4 linked regions of the Homo sapiens genome follow. The protein of the gene in region 1 interacts with the protein of each later gene in a pairwise test. Each region holds a gene or a part of one and is shown on either strand. Other genes may lie near its edges.

What was found.
Region 2: the proteins of PIM1 (region 1) and ZBTB1 interact in binary tests that used the Homo sapiens proteins (3 or more experiments, as listed by UniProt).
Region 3: the proteins of PIM1 (region 1) and ABCG2 interact in binary tests that used the Homo sapiens proteins (3 or more experiments, as listed by UniProt).
Region 4: the proteins of PIM1 (region 1) and FH interact in binary tests that used the Homo sapiens proteins (3 or more experiments, as listed by UniProt).

The regions. Positions count from the first base shown.
Region 1 is NC_000006.12:37,173,152-37,175,967, forward strand, and holds the end of PIM1 (serine/threonine-protein kinase pim-1), read left to right. Parts: coding exon 1-21; intron 22-782; coding exon 783-940; 3' UTR 941-2,277; downstream 2,278-2,816. UniProt on the Homo sapiens protein: Proto-oncogene with serine/threonine kinase activity involved in cell survival and cell proliferation and thus providing a selective advantage in tumorigenesis.
Region 2 is NC_000014.9:64,514,742-64,521,780, forward strand, and holds part of ZBTB1 (zinc finger and BTB domain-containing protein 1), read left to right. Parts: intron 1-1,858; exon of another isoform or gene 1,859-2,010; intron 2,011-3,615; exon of another isoform or gene 3,616-3,797; intron 3,798-6,745; 5' UTR 6,746-6,763; coding exon 6,764-7,039.
Region 3 is NC_000004.12:88,155,606-88,163,421, forward strand, and holds the start of ABCG2 (broad substrate specificity ATP-binding cassette transporter ABCG2), read right to left. Parts: upstream 2,968-7,816; 5' UTR 2,781-2,967; intron 1-2,780. Other genes in the region: uncharacterized protein LOC124900867, read right to left, coding at 2,968-3,477, 3,865-3,951.
Region 4 is NC_000001.11:241,509,730-241,516,768, reverse strand, and holds part of FH (fumarate hydratase, mitochondrial), read left to right. Parts: intron 1-3,055; coding exon 3,056-3,166; intron 3,167-4,625; coding exon 4,626-4,802; intron 4,803-7,039. UniProt on the Homo sapiens protein: Catalyzes the reversible stereospecific interconversion of fumarate to L-malate. Experiments in other species have demonstrated that specific isoforms of this protein act in defined pathways and favor one direction over the other.

The sequences.
Region 1 (2,816 bases):
TCAGGCAGAGGGTCTCTTCAGGTAACTGATGGAAACCCCTGGCCATGGGGTTATTGGTCTTAATGGGGCTATTAGTCTTCATGGGACAGTCTTTGAAATTCTGGAGAGCTTCACTCTCCAGTAGATTCTGTCACCCTTGGCTTAGAATTGTAGGTGAGTGATTTACACTTGAGCTGGCCTCATAAATCACATGGTTTGCACTTGAGCTTTCCTTGGGAGGTCAGAGGAAGGCATGTGTGAGCATATTAAGAAGAAAAGACAATCTGGCTTCTCCAAAAACTTTTTTAAAGGTACCAACAGAAACCTGATAATTCCTGGCTGTTTTGCCAGGGAGTAAAAAGTTAAAAGCTCTTTTAGCATCTTCTTTAAGGCAGCAGCTCCAAATATTTTGGTACCAGTGACCTCACTGTGGGTGGTGTTCGTGTTTGTAAGTTGGTAGGTGAATTGAATCATTTCATCATGCTCAGTGGTGTCTCATCAAAATCTCTTGTCATCATCCTTCCTATTTCTGGTGAGTGGGTGTTGTGGGAAAGGCCCCCACTATTGAAGTTTGAAAACCACAGGTTTAAGAGGGGAGTCAGTTTTTAGCTGAAAGCAGACTGGAGGACCCAGATATTAGTCAATACCTTCCTATTGAAGGGTACCCAGCACAGTGTTCTAGAAAATGCTTGGCCTCCCTGGGACCCCAGACTTGTGGGCCTCTGAGAAGCAAATGGGGAAGACCTTTGCAGTGTAAAAACAAGTTGAGTCATTCATAACCTCGTCTATCCTCCTTTCTGCAGAATGTCAGCATCTCATTAGATGGTGCTTGGCCCTGAGACCATCAGATAGGCCAACCTTCGAAGAAATCCAGAACCATCCATGGATGCAAGATGTTCTCCTGCCCCAGGAAACTGCTGAGATCCACCTCCACAGCCTGTCGCCGGGGCCCAGCAAATAGCAGCCTTTCTGGCAGGTCCTCCCCTCTCTTGTCAGATGCCCGAGGGAGGGGAAGCTTCTGTCTCCAGCTTCCCGAGTACCAGTGACACGTCTCGCCAAGCAGGACAGTGCTTGATACAGGAACAACATTTACAACTCATTCCAGATCCCAGGCCCCTGGAGGCTGCCTCCCAACAGTGGGGAAGAGTGACTCTCCAGGGGTCCTAGGCCTCAACTCCTCCCATAGATACTCTCTTCTTCTCATAGGTGTCCAGCATTGCTGGACTCTGAAATATCCCGGGGGTGGGGGGTGGGGGTGGGTCAGAACCCTGCCATGGAACTGTTTCCTTCATCATGAGTTCTGCTGAATGCCGCGATGGGTCAGGTAGGGGGGAAACAGGTTGGGATGGGATAGGACTAGCACCATTTTAAGTCCCTGTCACCTCTTCCGACTCTTTCTGAGTGCCTTCTGTGGGGACTCCGGCTGTGCTGGGAGAAATACTTGAACTTGCCTCTTTTACCTGCTGCTTCTCCAAAAATCTGCCTGGGTTTTGTTCCCTATTTTTCTCTCCTGTCCTCCCTCACCCCCTCCTTCATATGAAAGGTGCCATGGAAGAGGCTACAGGGCCAAACGCTGAGCCACCTGCCCTTTTTTCTGCCTCCTTTAGTAAAACTCCGAGTGAACTGGTCTTCCTTTTTGGTTTTTACTTAACTGTTTCAAAGCCAAGACCTCACACACACAAAAAATGCACAAACAATGCAATCAACAGAAAAGCTGTAAATGTGTGTACAGTTGGCATGGTAGTATACAAAAAGATTGTAGTGGATCTAATTTTTAAGAAATTTTGCCTTTAAGTTATTTTACCTGTTTTTGTTTCTTGTTTTGAAAGATGCGCATTCTAACCTGGAGGTCAATGTTATGTATTTATTTATTTATTTATTTGGTTCCCTTCCTATTCCAAGCTTCCATAGCTGCTGCCCTAGTTTTCTTTCCTCCTTTCCTCCTCTGACTTGGGGACCTTTTGGGGGAGGGCTGCGACGCTTGCTCTGTTTGTGGGGTGACGGGACTCAGGCGGGACAGTGCTGCAGCTCCCTGGCTTCTGTGGGGCCCCTCACCTACTTACCCAGGTGGGTCCCGGCTCTGTGGGTGATGGGGAGGGGCATTGCTGACTGTGTATATAGGATAATTATGAAAAGCAGTTCTGGATGGTGTGCCTTCCAGATCCTCTCTGGGGCTGTGTTTTGAGCAGCAGGTAGCCTGCTGGTTTTATCTGAGTGAAATACTGTACAGGGGAATAAAAGAGATCTTATTTTTTTTTTTATACTTGGCGTTTTTTGAATAAAAACCTTTTGTCTTAACTCGTGGCTTCTAATCGTCTGTGCGGAGGCATTGCTAACCTGCATTTATTGAGCATTTGGTAAGTGCCAAAGAATTGTAGGAGAAAGGAATTCTCAGCCTAAATCTGGCTTCCTTCAACATTGGGATTTCTAGGATAGTCATCTTCCTGAAACGAATGTATGGTCAAGGGGTAGGACCAGTATTGTCAAAATTTGGGCAATATCTGGCATGGGAGGCCTAATAAAATAACCTTTTCCAGATTACAATTTTAAAGCTATGCAAATAGGATAGATGTGACAATTTTCAAGTGTTCAATAGCCATTTATGGCTAGTGGCCACCTCATATAAAACATCATTGCAGAAAGTTCTATTGGATGGGGCTGATCTAGAGATAACAAATACATACCTATTACCAAACTAACCCTTGAAGCTTTTATCAGTTGTCTGCCACTGATAGTAAAACATTTTGAGCATGTCCCCTTGGTACACGTGAAGTTTATTGAAAAACTATTGCCTCTATTACTCTCGGTTCCTGATTCAAGTTTCCTTCACCTTTAGT
Region 2 (7,039 bases), on another chromosome or scaffold:
AAACCCTGTATTAAGGACTCATGCCCTGTCCTTGTTTAGTGTTCTTTCCGGAAGACCATACTGTATAGTACCAAGGAAGTGCCATATATAGAGGTTATTACTATCTGGGTGGTCAGGAGTCCTTAGTCCTAGTATGTGCTTCAGCACAGTTAACTATACCCTGATACATTAAAAACCATGTATCTTTGCCTTCTATGGAATAAGAATGTTAGACTAGATTAGATCTCTCTAAGCTCTAAAAATGTATGATTAAATTACTTAATATGCTTAATGTGCTTGGTGACTGTTTTTAAACTTGAGATGAGCCGTTAAACTTTTTCAGACTAAAATTTTAAAAATCCAGTATAAAACTTTTTGGATCACCTAACTCCTTAATTCTTGCTAGAGTTCTGCACAGTGGGTATCCTTCTAGCCTTAGTGTAACTCTTGGCATTATATAGCTTGTTTTCCTTATCCAAATGACATTAAGTCCTTTGAGTCACATTGGAGGTTCTGCTCTCAGACCTGAGCCCTTGACTTCTAGTTGTGCTAAACTTGTCCTACCAGTGATGCAGCTAGTAGTACAAACAAAAGCAATCACAGATTTCAGTCGTAAAAACAAGAACAGCTGAAATACAAGCTGTCCATTTACTTAAAACCTTTTATAGGCTTTACTAGAACATAAAGTTCATTAACTTTTTTTGGCAGCATTAATAAAGAGGTCAAAAAAATGAAAAAAGAGCAAACTCCTCTTGGAATTTGAGTGAAATTATAATTTAATGAAAGTGAATGCCTCATAATTTTTTTTTTTTTTTTTTGAGATGGAGTCTTGCTCTGTCGCCCAGGCTGGAGTGCAGTGGCACAGTCTTGGCTCACTGTAAGCTCCGCCTCCCGAGTTCCCGCCATTCTCCCGCCTCAGCCTCCCAAGTAGCTGGGAATACAGGTGCCTGCCACCACGCCCGGCTAATTTTTTGTATTTTTAGTAGAGACAGGGTTTCACTGTGTTAGCCAGGATGGCTCGATTTCCTGACCTTGTGATCCACCCGCCTCCGCCTCCCAAAGTGCTGGGATTACAGGCGTGAGCCACGGTGCCCGGCCTCAAAAATTTTTAATGAAAAAATTATCTTCAAGAGATAAGCTAAAAGTCTCACAGGAATTTAGATCCCTCCTCCCCTGCCGCATACTCCTCTACCTGTTTTTGGTGTAGTAATCCTTCTTAAAGCTTTTCTGGGCTAGGCACAGTGGTTTATACCTGTAATCTCAGCACTTTGGGAGGCTGAGGTGGGAGGATTGCTTGAGCCCAGGAATTCGAGACCAGCCTGGGCAACATAGCAAGACCTCATCACTACAAAAAATATACAAAAATTAGCCAGTCATGGTGGCGTATGCCTGTAGTGCTAGCTATTCAGAAGGTGTGAGGTGGAAGGATTGCTTGGAGAATGAGTACCCATATTAAAGCAGGAACAGAATGCTATTGAGGACATTCTGAGCTATGATGGCATGCCAGCCTGGGTAACAGAGTAAGACCCTGTCTCAAAAAAATAATAATTAAAATTTAAGAAAAAAGCTTTTCTGAATGAGGTGTAACAAGGACAGAGTTTCTGGTACTAATGTGTCAATGATTGCTATTATAAGTTACTGTGCCTAAAATCAGTTTTACTCAGAACTTGGACATTTGCATAATAATGTTACTTAAACTACAATTCTAGGTCAGCCTAAAAACTGTTGTGTTAGGATTAAAAATTAGACACAGCATTTGTTCAGCTTCCATTTGTTCAGCTTCCAGCTCTATAGGGGGAATATAGGAGTATAAACATGGATGCAGTGGGATTCACACTGTGATCCGTCTGACTGAGAGCACTTGTTCTTTCTACTACAGCATGATGCCTTCTTCTGTAGAGTGGGCGCTTTGCAGAATACGTGTTGAATGAAATCACTGATCTAGGAAAAGTAAAAATTCCTCAAATGAATACAGAATACTTGTGCTACTGCTGATGATCAACACTTTATACAGTGCCTGGTATACCAAAGGTAGTCAGTAAATGTTTGTTGAATGAATAAATGTGCATTAAAATGCTATAAGTGCTCTTATTTAAATGTTTTAGTGTTTTATGTTAATAAAAGAATATGTATTTTTACTCAGTTGAATTGTGACTATAGCTATAGATGTGCCTATCATATTGATCTTCTATGTAGTTGTATTAATTTTGGTTGCTGATGATAAAACTGCTGCTCATCTAGATAAGAAAGGGTCTTTGGAACTTCTGTGCTCTTTATATCATTATTTCAAGCCTGGACTATTTAATACTTGAAAGTTTTTATAGATTAACTACTGGCTTTCTAATGGACTGTTATTTGGAAGGAAATTTTAAGGTTATCAACTCAAACTTACCTGATGCTTAAATAAGCATCACCACCATTACAACATCCACTATTACTTTCATTATTACATGCCAAGCACGATGCATTTTACACATTGCCTCTGTGAATCCTCATATATGATACTGTATTTGAGGTATTATCCCTACCTTTTCAGTTCAGGAAACTTAGGGTCAATGAGGATAAGCAAGTTCCCAAAAGTGGCAAAGCTAGATAAGAAGCCAGGTCTGTCTGATCCTAGGCCCATGCTCTTTTCACTTATTATACTGTCCTCAATAGCATTCTGTTCCTGCTTTAATATGGGTACTCATTCTCCAAACAAGTTTGTTTCATTCTTGAATTACTCTTATTAATAGAAAGTTTGGTTTTTTAGAAATAATACCTATCCCTCTGCCTCTTACTCTATAGTTTATTATTTATTAAATGTCTCTCTGAATCCTAGAAAAATGACTATAGACATAGAAATTTCATCCTACTTAAAACGGGCTTGGGTCAACATTTTTGTGTATTTTTTTCATCTTTTTTCCCCCCACCTTTTGAATAAGGTTGTGGCGTGGATTTGTTTTATATAATTCTAACATAATTATGTATCCTGTGTTTATTTATTTGGCTCTCCATCTTGAACATTTTTCCCACTTCTGTAGTTGCCATTTAGAAATATATATATATATATATATATATATTTTTTTTTTTTTTTTTTTTTTGAGACAGTCTTGCTCTGTCAGCCAGGCTGGAGTACAGTGGCATGATCTCGACTCACTGCAACCTCCCTCAGCCAGGCTGGAGTACAGTGGCATGATCTCGGCTCACTGCAACCTCCCTCTCCCAGGCGCAAGCAATTCTCTTGCCTCAGCCTCCCGAGTAGCTGGGTTTACAGGCATGTGCCACCACGCCCGGCTAATTTTTATATATTTTTTAGTAGAGATGGGGTTTCACCATGTTGGCCAGGCTGATCTTGAACTCCTGACCTCAGGTAATCCGCCCACCTTGGCCTCCCAAAGTGCTGGGATTACAGGCATGAGCCACTGCGCCTGGCCCAGAAATACAATTTTTAATTCACTGCCACATGACAGTGAATTCTGGGGCGTAGATTTACCTTAAGACTCCTTTTTTTACTAGGCATTCAAATGAGAAGTAACTCATTAATGACTATCTTTGTGCATACATTGCTTTTTGTATTTAGATACATACTGAACATGATTCCTCACAGCTTTTTACAGATACCTGAGTTACAGAGGTTTGAAATATTGTACTTACTTGAAACTTGATCTGGCTTCCAGAAAAGGTGCAGTGGTTGCAATTTTAAGAAGGCAGCAGGTTTCATCATAAGCCATCTTCATTTCACCAGTCCTGTATCTCTGGCTATGGAACTTTATGTCTTAGAGGTGGCAGGATGGGCATATAGGTAGTAAAAGGGGCGTATGACCCATATGTGATCGCTGAGGAATGGATAAAAAGCAAATAGAAGTACGTAAACGTAGATACCCTTAATTACTACTACAGAGCTTGAAGAGTGAACATTTTATTTCTCTAAACAGCTTGTTACATGTTCTTTTTAAGTTCAGTCAAATTGCATAGGAACTTATTTTTAAGTAGAAGATAGATTCTGAAGCTTTATGTATACGGATTAAAAATTGAGGCTAAAATTTGATCTTATTTTAACTTTATAATATGATAGGATTTCTAGTGCTTTTAATACTTCCTCTCCTTTCTTCCTTATCCAAAGTCAGCTCCCTACACTAAAAATACTTAAATGCCCACTAATATTGTCTAATGTTAAATGAAGAAAACTAGTTGCAGAGAGGTATATATATATATATATATATATATATATATAGTATGATACCATTTAGGTTAAAAAACACAACAAAAGCAAAACTATGTGCCTGGCATCTCATAGGTACTCAATATGCTAACTATGTACATGTGCATCTCAACAAATCTGAAGGTATATAATCCAGAGTGTTTGGAGGGGTTACCTCTGAAAAGAGGTGTGTGATCTGAGGTGTGTTTTTATTCTATATGCCTCTATGTTTGAATTTTTTGCTACTTTTTTTTTTTTTTTTGAGATGGAGTCTCGTTCTTGTCACCCAGGCTGGAGTGTAGTGGCACAATCTCTGCTCCCTGCAACCTCCGCCTTCTGGGTTCAAGCGATTCTCCCGCCTCAGCCTCCCGAGTAGCTGGGATTACAGGCGCCCGCTATCACGACTGGCTAACTTTTTTTATTTTTAGTAGAGACAGGTTTTCACCGTGTTGGCCAGGCTGGTCTCGAACTCCTGACCTCAGCCTCACCCTTCCAAAGTGCTGGGATTACAGGCATGAGCCACCGCGCTCAGCCTTACTTTTTTCTTTTAACAATTAAAAAAAAAAAAAAATAGAAGAGGCCAGGTGCAGTGGCTCACACCCACAATCCCAGCACTTTGGAAGCCCGAGGCAGGAGGATCGCTTGAACTCAGGAGTTCAAGACCAGCCTGGACAACATAGCAAGACCTTGTCTTTACTAAAATATTAAAAAAAAAAAAACAAAAAAAAACTGAATGTGGTGGCATGTGCCTACAGTCCCAGCTACTCTGGATGCTGTGGCGGGAGGATTGCTTGAGCATGGGAGATTGAGGCTGCAGTTAGCTATGATCATGCCACTGCACTCCAGCCTAGGTAACAGAGCGAGACCCTGCCTCAAAAAAAAAAAAAGGAAGAAAACTTTACACTCTAAGGATAAATAAAATACCTTCTCAAATAAACCCACTGCTTCTTTATACCCTGAAATGCATGTTGAGCAACATGAGACACATTCTAACTCTATAGAATTATTGCTTCTTTGATAATTCAAGAAAAGACAAAGGCACTGATCAAACTTGTTTGGTGCCATTTCTATATAATCTAATAAGGTTGTTGTTGTTGTTGTTGTTGTTGTTGTTTTGAAACGGAGTCTCGCTCTGTCGCCCAGGCTGGAGTGCAGTGGTGCGATCTCGGCTCACTGCAAGCTCCGCCTCCCAGGTTCATGCCAGTCTCCCGCCTCAGCCTCCTGAGTAGCTGGGAATACAGGCGCCCACCACCACGCCTGGCTAATTTTTTTTGTATTTTTAGTAGAGACAAGGTTTCACTGTGTTAGCCAGGATGGTTTCGATCTCCTGACCTCGTGATCCGCCCGCCTCGGCCTCCCAAAGTGCTGGGATTACAGGTGTGAGCCACCACACCCAGCCCTAATAAGGTTTTTTTAAATTTTTATTTTTGGGATAGAGTCTCACTCTGTCACACAAGCTAGAGTACAGTGGCGTGATCATGGCTCACCACAACCTCAAAATCCTGGGCTCAAGCCATCCTCCTGCATCAGTCTCCCGAGTAGTTGGGACTGCAGGTGCATCATCATGCCTGGCTAATGTTTTTTTGTTTTGTTTTGTTTTGTTTTTAAGGCGAGATCTTGCTATGTTGCCCAGGCTTAATAGGGTTTTTAAAATAGATTATTTTAACAACACATGGCCAATCTTGTATCATCTATTGCTCCCCACACCCACCCCATTTATTTTTAAGCATATCTCAGATGTATCATTTCATCTGTAAATACTAAAGTATATATATCCAAAAGATAAGGATTCTTTTTAACACAATCAAAATACCTTTCTCACACTTAAAAAATGAGCAATAGCTCCTTAGTATTAATCATTTAATAAGTTTTTCATACTTTACAATCTAATTGTTAACTTTCAGTTTAAGTTGCTGTTTTATTTACTTTCATTACTCATATCCTTCAAGAGTTGTTTTCTTTTTTTTTTTTTCTTTTGAGACAGAGTCTTGCTCTGTCATCCAGACTGGAGTGCAGTGGCGTGACGCAACTCACTACAGCCTCTACCTGTCGGGCTCAAGTGATCCACCCACTTTAGCCTCCCAAGTAACTGGGACTACAGGTGATGCCACCACACCTGGTTAATTTTTTAAACTTTTTTGTAGAGAAGAGGTCTCACACTATTGCCCAGGCTGGTCTCAAACTCCCGAGCTCAAGCAATCCTCCTGCCTCGGTCTCCCAAAGTGTTAGGATTACAGGCGTGAGCCACTGCACTCGGCCTCCTTCAAGTATTTTTAAATTAATGTCTTTTTTTCTGTTCAAATTTAGTGTACATGTTCCCCCCAAGAGTTGTAATGAAACTAAAACTGTCTTTTGCTTTTGATGCCTTTGTTCAATATGAAAAGCCTGAATAAATGGCTGGATGTCTTCATCTTCAAATTTAAAAAATGATTCAAGTATATATTATTGAGTTTTATTAGAATGGAAAGCTCTTAATTTCTTGATTGTAATAGCAGTCATGCAAGTCACAAATCATGATAAAAGTTAATTTTGTCAAGTGCTTTTCTATATCTTGTTTGACTTTAATATTTTTGTTTTACATAGGTCTCTAATTAACAGAAGATGGCAAAGCCCAGCCACAGCAGCTATGTCCTTCAGCAGCTAAACAACCAAAGAGAATGGGGTTTTCTCTGTGACTGCTGTATTGCAATTGATGACATTTACTTTCAAGCACACAAGGCAGTTCTAGCTGCCTGTAGCTCCTATTTTAGAATGTTTTTCATGAACCATCAGCATAGTACTGCACAACTGAATCTCAGCAACATGAAAATTAGTGCAGAATGTTTTGATCTCATTTTGCAGTTTATGTATTTAGGAAAAATTATGACAGCTCCCTCC
Region 3 (7,816 bases), on another chromosome or scaffold:
GTTCAAAAGTAACTCTAGGCCGGGCACGGTGGCTCATGCCTGTATTCCCAGCACTTGGGGAGGCCGAGGCGGGTGGATCACCCAAAGTCAGGAGTTCGAGACCAGCCTGGCCAACATGGCAAAACCTCGTCTTTACTAAAAACATTAAAAATTAGCTGGGCGTGGTGGCACATGCCTGTAATCCCTGCTACTCAGGAGGCTGAGGCAGGAGAATTGCTTGAACCCAGGAAGCGGAGGAGGTTGCAGTCAGCTGAGATCCCACCATTGCACTCTGGCCTGGAGCAAGACTCCATCTCAAAAAAAAAAAGAAGTAACTCTAATAGAACATCCAGTGTCCAGATATTAGCTTCTAATACCATTCTAAAGCAAAATAATCACAGTGCCTTGGAGAAATGGATCATTCCAAGGTTGGGACATGGAAAATACAAAATAAGCCTGAGCATTCTCTGATGCCAGAAATCAAGAAATGCATTAAAAAAGAAAAAGAGTCCGGGCATGATAGCTCACACCTGTAATCCCAGCACTTTGGGAGGCCGAGGCGGGCAGATCACTTGAGGCCAGGAGTTTGAGACCAGCCTGGCCAACATGGAAAACCCCGTCTCTACTAAAAAATACAAAAAGTAGCCAAGTGTGGTGCTACGTACCTGTAATCCCAGCTACTTGGTAGGCTGAGGCACAAGAATCGCTTGAGCCTGGGAGGCGGAGGGTGCAGTGAGCCGAGATCGTGCCACTGCACTCCAGCCTGGGCGACAAAGACTCCGTCTCAAAAAAAAAAAAAAAAAAAAAAGAAGGAAAAAGAAAAAGCAAGTGTATGTCAAAGTGGCACAGGCGCCAACCTGAAAAAGGTCCCAGTGGTGAAAGCCAGAACAATTTGAGCAGCAAATTAAATACTGATAATATTGGATTATAACCCATATAACAAAACAAATATCCATGAGCCCATACTGATACAAATAACTGAATCAATGAACAGGAGAGAAGGGTCAACTCTTCCCTACAGAAGGGAATTTTAATTAAAAAATGTAGAAGGAAGAAAATAGGGGTTTTGTTTAACCATTAGGAAAAAAAACCCGCTAAACAACATGTTCCACAAATGGATGCTTAAATTAATGAATAAAAGTTTAAGGAAAAATGGCAGTGCAGGTTTCTCTCCCAAGATCTCAAATACAAAGGGAATCTGGCAAACAGATTAACATCATAGGTAATAAGAAGTATCGGCTAGGGCACAGTGGCTCACGCCTGTAATCCCAGCACTTTGGGAGGCCAAGGCAGGAGGATCACTAGAGGTCAGGAGTTCGAGACCAGCCTGGCCAACATGAAACCTGTCTCTACTAAAAATACAAAAAATTATCTGGGCATGGTGGCAGGCGCCTATAATCCCAGCTACTCAGGAGGCTGAGGCAGGAGAATCGCTAGAACCTGGGAGGCAAAGGTTGCAATGAGCTGAGATCGTGCCACTGCACTCCAGTCTGGGCAATAAAGCAAGACTCAGTCTCAAAAAAAAGTATTGACATCATGTACCCAATATGACATACTGAGATGGAAACTTTACTTCTGTGACATTTTTCCCCAAAATGCAGAACATTCATCTAATCATGACACTAAACATCAAGCAAACACAAATTGAGGGGCATTCTACAAATTAACTGACCGGGTCTTCTTCACTAGTGTCAAGGTCCATGAAAAAACAATGAAAGGCTGAGGAACTGTCACAGATCAGAGAAAATTAAGGATATTTAGCAGTTAAATGCAAAGTGAGATCATCGATTGGATCCTGGGCAGAAAAAGGACAGTGGAAAGACAAGTGAAATCCAAATAAAGTCTGTAGTTTAGTTCATTGTATTATAGTAGCATGCCCATGTTATTAGTTTTGGCCCTTGTTATGCATGATATTATGGGAACTCTCTGTACTATTTTTTGCAAATTTTCAGTAACTCTCAAATTATTTCACAATTAAAAGTTATTATAAAATAAATAATAAAATAACCAACATCTTTCAATGTTTATAATGGAAGGGTAATGTTAGACTTAACATGCCATCTTTGTCGTTGAAACCTTTCTCATCAAGATCTCATCAAGATCTATACAATCCAGTCAAAGCTGTACTCTGAAAGCACTGTTTTGTAAAGAATATCAATAAAAAACATCTCTTCCTTACTACTCTGGTGTATTTATTTATGACTAGCTGACATTCAAATGATAAGAGAGCTGTAAGATCCTCCTAAAAACCAAGCTTTAGGGGATATCTCTAGGACTGAGAAGGGAGTAAGAGCACTCAACTATCCACAGAAAATTACAAAAGGGAGTTCAATAATTCTTTAGCAAACCATCCAAAGCTTTAAAGGGATTGACCAATAATTTGTCATTTACCTATTCCCAATTGTCATTGACCAATTCCTATATTGGTCAACCCCTTTAAAATATTAACATCAACAAATGTTTCCTCCACCTATAGTAACTTCTGTGCTCAGTGGGTTTTTATCCTTCCAATATCAACTTTAATTTCATACATTTGGAGAAAGGCCAAGAGTTTTTACCAACCCACACTTAACACACTATGGGACCCAGAATCAGTTTGCACCAGGGCATCATTTTCTGAAAAACCACTTTGAACTGTCAGTTTTAAACTGCATACCCACTTTCAAATGAAACTGCGAAAGGCTAAAAAACTCAGTCGTCTCGTTTGAACGGTTACCGATTTTCTAACAAATATATACACAACGCCCACCAACCTTTCCAGACACACACTCTCAGCGAAACTGGTTTTACAATTTACTCACTCAGCTTAATAGAGCTCGGTCTTAACCAAAGGCTCAGGATCTCAGGATGCGTGCGCTCGGAGGCAGCGCTTTAACAATTAAGGATGTAAATGTTGGGATGAGTCACCCGGACCTTCCAAACAAACTCTAAAGCAGCAGTTTCCACTTAACAAGACCACCAAGCATGTGCACGGTGCGTTCCTAAATCCTACCCAGTTCCTCCACAGGCTGCCTCCTTGCCGCGTCTCTCAATCTCAGTGGGAGTGGCGGGCACTGCCTCTTCCCTCCTGCGCGCCCGGAACCTTTTGAGTGGGCACAGCACGCAGCCCGCGCGCGGCACAACCCCTTCCCCCAACCACACCCGGCGCGCCCGAGCGCTCCCCTCGCGCGGCGGCCGGCGTGGGAGGCGCTGCGGCTGGAGGTCACGATGGGAGCCGGCGGGTGGCCGCCTGGGGAGACCCGGACATCCAGGGGACGAGCTCAGGCAGCGCTGACACGAACTTCCTAAGCCGCGCTTCGGGCTGTGGACCGCCAGAGCTGAACGCAGTGGCCCCTCCCCAGCGCCCCGGGTTTCCCCAGGTCGGGGTTCGCGGGCGGGGGTGAGGCGTGGCCCCGACTGCCGGGCCGCGATAAGCGCCCTGCGACCCGGCTGAAAGCGCACACGTGTCCTGCCGCGCTGAGCCGCCAGCAGGACTGGTACCACCGCCCTCCCTCGGGGCTAGGGTCACCCTGCCGTGACACGCAGGGACAAGCCAAACACTCCCGCCTCCGGGATCGAACGGAATGAACCAGAGTGATTAACTACGAGAATCACCAGGCGCTCATTGGGCTGATCAGTACCTCGTCTGACCTAGCTGGGTTTGGTCGCCGTCACTGGCCGGAGCGCCGAAGCACCGGGGACGCTGACGCACAGGTTGCCCAGTCACAAGCGCTGCTCGCACCCAGAGCAAGTTAAATGGGTGGTTTCTGGTGAATGGGATTCTGAGAAAGTGGATGCTTGCGCCCCAGGGCCTAAAAAAATCAGGCACTGAATCTAACCCAAGGAAGGAAAGGGGAGAAACTTACTGAATGAAAATATTACCATAGTTTAAATGTTATTCTTTACACTCCTGTGACTGACATACTTCTGTGCAATATTCCGATGGTGTGGAAAGGCTAGAAAGTGATTGCGCATGTTCAGGAAACGGGCCATCAGGCTTTGTGAGTGTAGCCATCCCAACATCTACCTGCTGCATCTACCCTAGGAAATTAGTACCTGCATGCAGATATTTTCTGGTTTGCATTTACAAACAAAAATCATAGTATCATTTAAGTTGTTTAAATCAACACTAGGAATAACTATTAATGGTTCACCCAATGCAGGAAAGTTTTAGCTAGGAAGCCTAGATAAGAAAATTGACTATACATAATTTTTTAAAAAGAATTTTAAATATACCATACCGCATGCTTTTTAAAAGAATTTTAAGGTATATATTCATGATGCGCCCAAACATTTGGGTAAAATTATTCTTTTGAATTAATTTCTGTCAGTTTCAAGACCCTTAAAGGCCCATATAGAAATACATGTTAGTCATACTTCATTTTAAGACAAAATTAAGGCCAGCACGGTGGCTCATGCCTGTAATCCCAGCACTTTGGGAGGCTGACGCAGGCAGATCACTTGAGGCCAGGAGTTCGAGACCAGCCTGGCCAACATGGTGAAACCCTGCCTCTACTAAAAATACAAAAGTTAGCTGGGTGTGGTGGCGAGGCTGTAATCCCAGCTACTCGCGAGGCTAAGGAACAAGAAGCGCTTGAACACAGGAGGCAGAGGTTGCAAATGACCCGAGATCCCACCACTGCACTCCAGCCTGGGCCACAGAGTGAGACTCTGTCTCAAGAAAAAAAAAAAAATTAAGATAAAGTTTTCAGACCTGGCCGTTAACGACTGTTTGCAAAAACTGAAAAATCTCCGAAAAATAAATTTTATTTTAATTTTCTTTTTAGCTCACCCAGATAAGTGAAAAGAATAAAATTTTATGATACCAGAAAAAATGAAAACATTTCCAGCAAGATCTGAAGGCACTACAGGAGGAGACTGAACAAAAATGGAGAAAACACACACGAAACTGATATGAAGCACATTTTTAAAAATGGATACTTAGTTGAATATAGCATTCTGTAATTATGCAAAGTAAAAACAAATCAAAACCCTATACATAGAGGCCAGGCACGGTGGCTCACGCCTGTAATCCTAGTACTTTGGGAGGCCGAGGCAGGTGGATCACCTGATATCAGGACTTCAAGAGCAGCCTGGCCAACATGGTGAAACCCTTCTCTACTAAAAATACAAAAATTAGCCGGGCATGGTGGCTCATGCCTGTAATCCCAGCTACCCAGGAGGCTGAGGCAGGAGAATTGCTGGAGCCAGGGAGGCAGAGGCTGCAGTGAGCCAAGATCATGTCACTGCACTCTAGCCTGGGTGACAACGTGAGACTCCATCTCAAAAAAAAAAAAAAAAAAAAAAAACCTATACATAGAAAATTGCTGGGCAAGGAGTGACAGCTCACTCCTGTAATCCCAACACTTTGGGAGGCAGAGGCCAAAGAATTGCTTGAGCCCAGGAGTTCAAGACCAGCCTGGGCAACATACTGAGACCCTATCTCTACAAAAAAAAAATATTTTAAATTACACTGGGTGTGGTGGCTTACACCTGTAATCCCAGCACTTTGGGAGGAGGCCAGAGGATTGCTTGAGCCCAAGAATTCGAGACAAGCCTAGGCAACACAGGGAGCCCCTGTCTCTACAAACAATTTTTTTTTTTAATTTTTTTTTTTTTTATTATACTCTAAGTTTTAGGGTACATGTGCACATTGTGCAGGTTAGTTACATATGTATACATGTGCCATGCTGGTGCGCTGCACCCACTAACGTGTCATCTAGCATTAGGTATATCTCCCAATGCTATCCCTCCCCCCTCCCCCGACCCCACCACAGTCCCCAGAGTGTGATATTCCCCTTCCTGTGTCCAAGTGATCTCATTGTTCAATTCCCACCTATGAGTGAGAATATGCGGTGTTTGGTTTTTTGTTCTTGCGATAGTTTACTGAGAATGATGGTTTCCAATTTCATCCATGTCCCTACAAAGGACATGAACTCATCATTTTTTATGGCTGCATAGTATTCCATGGTGTATATGTGCCACATTTTCTTAATCCAGTCTATCATTGTTGGACATTTGGGTTGGTTCCAAGTCTTTGCTATTGTGAATAGTGCCGCAATAAACATACGTGTGCATGTGTCTTTATAGCAGCATGATTTATAGTCCTTTGGGTATATACCCAGTAATGGGATGGCTGGGTCAAATGGTATTTCTAGTTCTAGATCCCTGAGGAATCGCCACACCGACTTCCACAATGGTTGAACTAGTTTACAGTCCCACCAACAGTGTAAAAGTGTTCCTATTTCTCCACATCCTCTCCAGCACCTGTTGTTTCCTGACTTTTTAATGATTGCCATTCTAACTGGTGTGAGATGATATCTCATAGTGGTTTTGATTTGCATTTCTCTGATGGCCAGTGATGATGAGCATTTCTTCATGTGTTTTTTGGCTGCATAAATGTCTTCTTTTGAGAAGTGTCTGTTCATGTCCTTCGCCCACTTTTTGATGGGGTTGTTTGTTTTTTTCTTGTAAATTTGTACAAACAATTTTTTAAAAATTAGCTGGATGTGATGGCACATGCCTGTGGACCTAGCTATTTGGGGGGCTGAGGTGGAAGGATTGCTTGAGCCCCGGGGTTCAAGGCTGCAGCGAGCCATGATCAGAGTGAGACCCCACTCTAAAGAAAAAGAGAAAGAAAGAAAATAGCAGGAAAGTGTTCATTTGTTCTGGGTAGTAACATGGAATGTCTTTTATCTTGTATTTTAGTGTAATTTTCTAAATTTTATGTAACAAATTTAGAAAATTATAAATTTTATAATGAAAAATGGATTTTAAAAGTAAAATAAACTGATAAAATATACATATAAAGACACATGACAATAGAGTCCTCACTTGAAATAGGACTAAAACTAAAAAAAAGTTTCCTTAATTTTAGTCTAATTTTAAAAATATTTTAGATTGTGATGTTTCATATTTATAGGTCGGTTTATTTGCTAACTAAAGTTACATTGGGAGGCAGTGGTAAATCAAATAAAAATTCAAAATAAAGTTTTATTAGTTCCTAACCTCATCCTAATATTTTATCAAATTCTATTTGATAAGTTCAGATTAAAGCCAGCATTTTATAAATGTATTGCACTGTATAGAAATGAGTCATTTTAACTTGTAAGTTAGCATTGTTTTTGGAGCTAGCCATAGAATTTTAGAGAAAAAGGACCTTCCTCATTAGGTCAGATGTTAGATGACTTTCCTCATTTTACAGATAAGTCACCAGTGCAAAGGAGACTGATTTGCACAAGGTTAAAGGTTAAGTGACTCACAGCCTTCCAAGCCATTGCCCTCTGCCCTCCACCACAGGACCTTTCTTTTATTTTACCAGGCAAGAGTCACTGCCCAGTATTTATAAGGCCCCATATTGAGACTCCTGCTGAATGCCTGTGCACCAGTTGCAAAGAGCTGGTAAGGCCCCAGTATGCTACATTTCTTAGTGCTTACTCCAAAGGTGAACTCCAGAATTGTCAATTTTCCCTGGCAAGGTCAGGTTTCAGACAGGATTCACCATGGGCCTGGGGACATTTGGGTTACATATATAACAGATGTATTCAGTCCGAGTATATCTATTTTCATTACCACTCCAAGTTAAGAAAATAACAGTGGAAGAGAGGCTATGTGCACAGTATTCCCCCACAGCCCAGCTCACAGCTATCAGGGCCTTTGACTAATATGGCAAGAGAAAGTTCAGTCTATAATGGTGCAAACAGTTATTGTAAATAAAATAATGGAAACAGTTTAAAACTCTTCCTAAAGATTTCAGTATAAAAGGAAGGTGAGAGAAAGGAATATAGCTAGAGGCTATCTTAGGGTTCAGAGAAAATATTCATTTGGTTTGAATTAGACAGACTAGAACATGTGTGCA
Region 4 (7,039 bases), on another chromosome or scaffold:
AGACAGGAGAATTGCTTGAACCCGGGAGGCGGAGGTTGCAGTGAGCTGAGATCGCACCACTGCACTCCAGCCTGGCGACAGAGTGAGACTCCGTCTCAAAAAAAAAAAAATTAATTTAATTTTAAGTTCCGGGATACACATGCAGGATATGCAGTTTTGTTGCATAGGTAAATGTGTGCCATGGTGGTTTGCTGCACCTCTCAACCCATCACCTAGATATTAAAACCCGGCATTAGCTATTTTTTCTGCTGCTCCCCCTCCGCCCACAGGCCCCTGTGTGCTTTGTTCCCCTCCTTGTGTCCATATGTTCTCATTGTTCAGCTCCCACTTACAAGTGAGAACATGCGGGTTTGGTTTTCTGTTCCTCTGTTAGTATGCTGAGGGTCACAGCTTCTAGCTCCATCCATATCTCTGCAAAGGACATGATCTCATTCTTTTTTATGGTTGCATAATATTCCATGGTGGATATATACAACTTTTTCTTTATCCTTTATTGATGGACATTTGGGTTGATTTCATGTCTTTGCTATTGTGAATAGTTATTTTGGATTTTTATTTGGCAGAACTAAATGATTGTCTTTTCACTCTTGCTGGGTATTTACAGATTTTTACTAGGGTTCTACAGTTTGTAAATATTTTTATTTCAATACTCATTCTTTTTTCCCCCACTAATTTAAAACTGAGATTTTTTAAAATTACACTTTGTATTTTGGTTTCAGTTTCCTAAAAAGTGTATAGTACACAAACACATCAAAGTATTACTCTTAACCATGTCTGACATATAATAGATAATATATAAGTATTTATTCAATTCCATATGAATGATTAAATGATGAGAAAACTTTCTACCACATTCAATTAAATTTAAGATGCCATTAATTAGAAGATGCACCAATAGGCACCACTAAGAAAGAAAAATGCTACCAATTAAGGTTGTGACTTACCATTGATTACAAGATACATCTTGATTTCAGAGATGTTAAAGTGTGAAAAGAATTGAGAAATGCATAACATATTCTACGGGAGCCCAACCGGAGTATGAAAAATAGTCAATGCAGGATAGGCTAGTAAGCCTAGAAGTAGATAGGCTTCATCCTGTGAGATATTGTTTAACACTTATCTTATAAATATGCTTTTATTTTCAATAATTTTAAGTCATTCCTAAGCCTTCAAGACTGCCTCTTGACAGGTATATAGAACTTTACAACAGGCAGCTGAATCTTTGATGAGAATATCTTTGTCATTGCCATCTACAGCCTTCTTGGTGGTGAGGTAAACATAGTTTGACTACGTGGTTAGGTGAAAAAGGGTAGTGACCAATCCTAAAATAATCTCATATTATTCAACTCCAGAGACTAAGGAGGAGGTCAGCCCCAGCTAGTGTTGGTGGGAGTGAGCATGGCTGCCGTTTTCATTGATCTGTGTCACCAGCATGTTTTGTGGTTCTGGTGGGGCATGGTTCCTGCTGCTGCTGCTCCAGAGACAGCACAGCCATTGGGATTGCACACCTGTGAAAGGCAGACACCTGGGGTCTCGATTTTGTCATACTTTCTGAACTTTATTATGTGTAAAACAGTCTGTATGTACTCTAAACTGAGTAGTATGATTAAACTCAACCCTTTTTACTTGAGGTCCAGAGGAAAACAAAGCTAAAAAGATTATGAACATCTAATGTGAATAAATTAAGAATAAAGTGACCTGTCTTTTCTCTCTAGTGATACATTTTGCCATTTTATGGTGTTCGTTGAACCTCTTTCTGCTGTGAATGACCCTTTTTTATTTTTATGGTCCATAAACACTGGGGGTCATTCACTCCATTCAGATGGCCAGCGTTGATTGGCATTCACCTTTGCCCTTGGTAGTGGTTCAGCCCACTACCTCAGTGTTTGTTACTGTGGAGATTTAAATTCCCATTTGTTTTTGTGTTTAAAGTTTTTAAGTTTCTAATCCTGTGTGCCATCTGTCCTCATTTCGTTTGAGTCAAACGTTTCTAATGTTTTAATTTTAGTTACTTAAAATTGAAATTTCAAATTTTCTGGTTTTCCTTTTCTATTTGACCCTCAGCTTATACTTACTCTGGTCCAGGTTTATGTTTTTAATGTGTCTTATTTCTTACTTTTCTTGGCTTTTTCTACTTTGATTCCAGAGATAGCAGGTTCTCTCTTATACATTCATCATTCTCTTCCTTTCTTCCCTTTCTCCCTTCTACTCTTTCCCCATTCAAACCTGGTGTGGGATCTATACAACAATCTGTATTATTAATTTTGACAAGAACTCACAATTCACTTGTCTTATAAAAACTAGGTTTTCATTTCAGTTTATCCTTTTCAAGCTTGGTGAGGTGATTTGGGATAGACAATGAAAATATCTGCATTAATGGGGTTTTATATATATCGGAAGCTGTCACCTTTAGGTCTGGAGAATCTTGGGTTTAAAAAAATAATTCTTCTGAGAGAAATGTCCAGGGAGTTACTGAGTATTAAGGCTTTACTAGCTAAGTAGAATAGATTGCTTTTTGGCCTTGGGGTGAAATGATAACCCAGTCAGTCACTGGTAGTCTCATACTGATTGGCAGTTAAATATATCCCTTATTTATTTATTTTTTTAAGAGGGGAAGGAAACAATTATAATGTAACGTGGGATCCAGTAAGAGAAAATAATGGTTCTTGCTGGTGAAAAGATTGAGTACTAAATTTGTTTTTATTTATAGTATATGAAATAAACACATATAATTTATTGTGTGTATTTGTGCATAGGATTGTATTCGTGTGAATATGTGTGTATATGTATGTGGGAGACGTACACACATATATATATGAAGAGTCAATGTATTTGTTTTTATTTGGTTCCTTAAACAAATAGATCTATGATAATGTTGATTCTTGGTTCATGAATTCCTGTCTATAATCTTTCTCTATAACCGAAACATTTTAGAGCTATAGTGTTACTGTTTTATTGTTATTGTTTTATGTATAGCTTTTGCATCTGCCAAAATAATAAACTTCCATGCTTAAGTAAAATTGTAAATTTGAAATATTTTTCTGATTAATTTTAGACCCCAGTTATTAAAGCTTTTGGCATCTTGAAGCGAGCGGCCGCTGAAGTAAACCAGGATTATGGTCTTGATCCAAAGATTGCTAATGCAATAATGAAGGCAGCAGATGAGGTAGGAGGTGATAAGTGTGTTTGCTTAATAACCTCAGACCCATGCCATACTCTGGATGACGATATGCTCTGGCAGAAGGAAAGGGGAACTGTGAATTCTTGAATTAATGAATTTCAGGGGAGGGTGGTAGCATTATTTTTAGTGGTGATATTAATATGGTGCTTAAAACGTTACATTGTGACAAAATTTCTGGATGATTTTATACCTTTTGTTTTTAAGCCTTTTGACTTTCCTTAATTTATATAGTTTTAAGAAAATTTTTTGAAAAGATATCATTTGAACTTTACTTGATTTTTTATTTTATATATAAATCTTTTTAAAACCAGTTGATTATTTGATAATGCATATTGAGAATGTAATTTTACTAATATGCTAATAACATTGTCTTAAAGAAGCAATCAGAGGTAACAGAACTGTATATATAGTGTTGTTAATTACAGCACTATTTATAATAATGAAAACAAATTAGACAATGCGTAACTATAACAGCTACTTATATAAATTATATTTATATGGTAAATTATAGAAAATTACTTTTTTGAAGATTGGCATGCACAAAGCCTAGCCTATGAGAAATAGGGAGGAAAGTTTGCAAAAATATATGTATTTTACGATCCTAATTTTGTTTAGGAAAAAATGAACAGAAAGTGTGTGTTTCTCATATACACACACACACACACACACACACACACCCTCATTGCATGAGATAGAGACTGGGGATGCCAACATGCTAATAGTCATAATTACTGAGCAATAGAACTATAGTGACTGTTTTACTTTTCTCAGTTCTCAAAATTTTCTACACTAATCACATATTTTTATATAACCAGAAAAAAGTTTTATTTTAAAGTGGACCAGTTGTTCAAGGTAATAGATTTCTCAAGTGCATTCTGATTTTTTAAGCTAAAATCATTCCAGAAGATTGTTAACCACCCATATTTTACAAAGCACACCATCCAAAAACTAACACATAAGCTGGATGTATAAAAATACAACAAAAATAGGGGCAAATCTGGGCAGCGTTTATTTCTACATTTGGTGATTACTGCTCATTGGACATCTGTGCAATGAAGTAGCTATTAGTGAACTCACATTTTCAAGTTACTAGCTCATTAGCATGCTGACTCTGGCAATAACATCTGTTGGATATTCCTGCTGAGCACCAGCAACAAATATATCTAGAGACTAAACGTATTTGCCAGCCTTAACAGGTGGTCCTCTGTTAGAGGAGGCTGTGGGAGAGAGATAAGAAAGATACCTTTGATTCCCTTTTCATTTGAAACCAGTGAATTGTCATACCATTCACTATAGATAATATTTCACTTTTTAAAGTATCTGTGGTTGGAGCAAGTGATGCTTCAGAAGCTTAGATATGTGGGTCAACTGTATTCAAACTCTGTGGCATAATCAGCATTATTATTTCCTTTTTTAAAATACATTTTTAACATTTTTTCTGCAGGTAGCTGAAGGTAAATTAAATGATCATTTTCCTCTCGTGGTATGGCAGACTGGATCAGGAACTCAGACAAATATGAATGTAAATGAAGTCATTAGCAATAGAGCAATTGAAATGTTAGGAGGTGAACTTGGCAGCAAGATACCTGTGCATCCCAACGATCATGTTAATAAAAGCCAGGTCAGTATGTGAGCTTTGCTGTTTTTTGGTTATAAATTGAAAAGCATACCTGAGATTGTTCTTGTAAAACAAGCATTCACTTTTTGACAAGAAGTGTTCATTATTTAATGGATAAGGCTTCTTATGGTTCTTATTTCTTGAAGGAATCTTGGTTTTATGTTTCAATCCTTATAAAAATTATTTTTAGGACACCTGAATTTAGTGTATGTATTTTTTTATTGTTTAAAACTCTATTTTGAAATAATTTTAGATTTATAAGAGAATTGCAAAGATAGTTCAAATAGTTTCTATATCCCTTCACTCAGCTTCCCTTATTGTTAACATCTTATGTAACCATGGTACATTTATCAAAACTAAGAAATTAACATAGATACAGTACTCTTAGCTAAACAACAGACTTTAAAAAAAAAACAAAAAACTGAGGCTTTCCTCAGTTTTTCCACTCATGTTCTTTTTCAGGATCCAATCAATGCTATACATTACATTTAGTCACATGTCCCCTTGGTTTCTTCTAATCTGTGACAGTTTCTTGGTCTTTTGCGATTGTCTCAGTCCTTTGGGGCTGCAGTAATAAAATACAATAGACTGACTGGCTTATAAACAATAGAAGAAGTTAATTTGTCACAGTTCTGGCAGCTAGAAGTCCGAGGTCAGGCCACTGGCCAATTCATTGGCTTGGTGGGGGCCCACTTTTTGGTTTGTAGATGGCCATCTTTTCTGTGTCCTCACATGGTAGAAGGGACAAGGGAGCTCTCTGGGGTCTCTTCGTAAGGACACTAATTCCGTTCATGAGAGCTTTGCCCTATGAACTAATCACCTTGCAAAGGCCGCATCTCCTAATACTATTACCCTAGGGGTTAGGATTTCACATAGCAGTGACCTTGACACTTTGAAAGCAGTGGTCAGGTATTTTGTAGAATGTCCCTCAATTCTGGTGTGTCTGACGTTTTCTCATTAGATTGAGACTTTTGAATTTTTGAGAAAACTATCACAGAAATAAAGGGCCCTTCTCATTGCATCATATCAGGGGTTCATGATAGCAACATGACTTTTACTGGTGATGTTAACCTTAATCACTTGGTTAAGCTGGTACTTGCCAGGTTTCTCCATGGTAAAATTATAATTTTTCCTCTTCTATACCCTGTTCATTAGAAATAGGTCACTAAACCCTGCCTGCATTCCAGGCACTGTATTTCAGTTTCTAGAGGGAGGAGTATCAAAAAGTTTTTGGGCTTACATTAAAATCACTGTAGTAATTAATAGCGCGCTACCTTGAGGCTAGGCAAACATCTTCTTTTTCCTTAAACTTTTTCCTACTATTTTTAGCATTCATCAGGGAATCTTATCTACAGCAATTACTTCCATGGTGTTTTAATAGTGATTTTCAGTTTTCTTTATTCATTCTACACTTGTTAGTTGAATTTTTCTGCAAGGAAGATTTGTTCTCTCTGTCCCATTTATTTATTTATTCAGTTATTTGGGTATATCAGTATGGACTGATGGTTATTTATTTTATTCTTCAGGTTATGATCCCATACTTTTGTTTATATTGTTGCTTAAATTCTTTCAGCTCTGGGAACCCAATTCATTTGGCTCTTGTGTCCTTTTAGGCATGCCACCATCCTTTTACTTTTCTGAAGTGTGTTCCGACTTCCTGGTACTTTAAGATGCTCCAAGCTCATTGTCTTGTATTGTTTCTGCCCCAGCCCTAGAAACAGCCATTTTTCAAGGAACTGTTGGAGAATTCTTATTGGAAAATGATATTTAGAAACTGAGATCTGGGTGCTAAGTATAATTTAATATATTTTTAAGTAGTAAGGAAGAAGTGTTTTTAATACACGTTCATTGTATAAGGGATTTTCCCAATCTAATACTTGCCTTTATGAATTTATGTTCTATATATACTGAAGTCTGAAGTCTGCCTCAGAAAGGTAGAGTTATAGATGAAACGTGATTGGCTACATGTTGATAATTATGTAAACTATTTGAATTCAGGTGACAGGTACATAAGTGTTTATTATACCATTCATCCTACTTCTTTCGTAAGTACTTTATATTTTGCATAGTAAACGTCAAAATATATAAATAATGTATCTTTTTAAATGACAGTATACTTTTATATATATCTGTGTGTGTGCATGCGTGTGTGTGTGTGTGTGTGTGTGTGTGTGTGTGTGTGTGTGTGTGTTTAGAGATTGTGCTTCACTCTGTCACCCAGGCTGGAGTGCAGTAGAGTG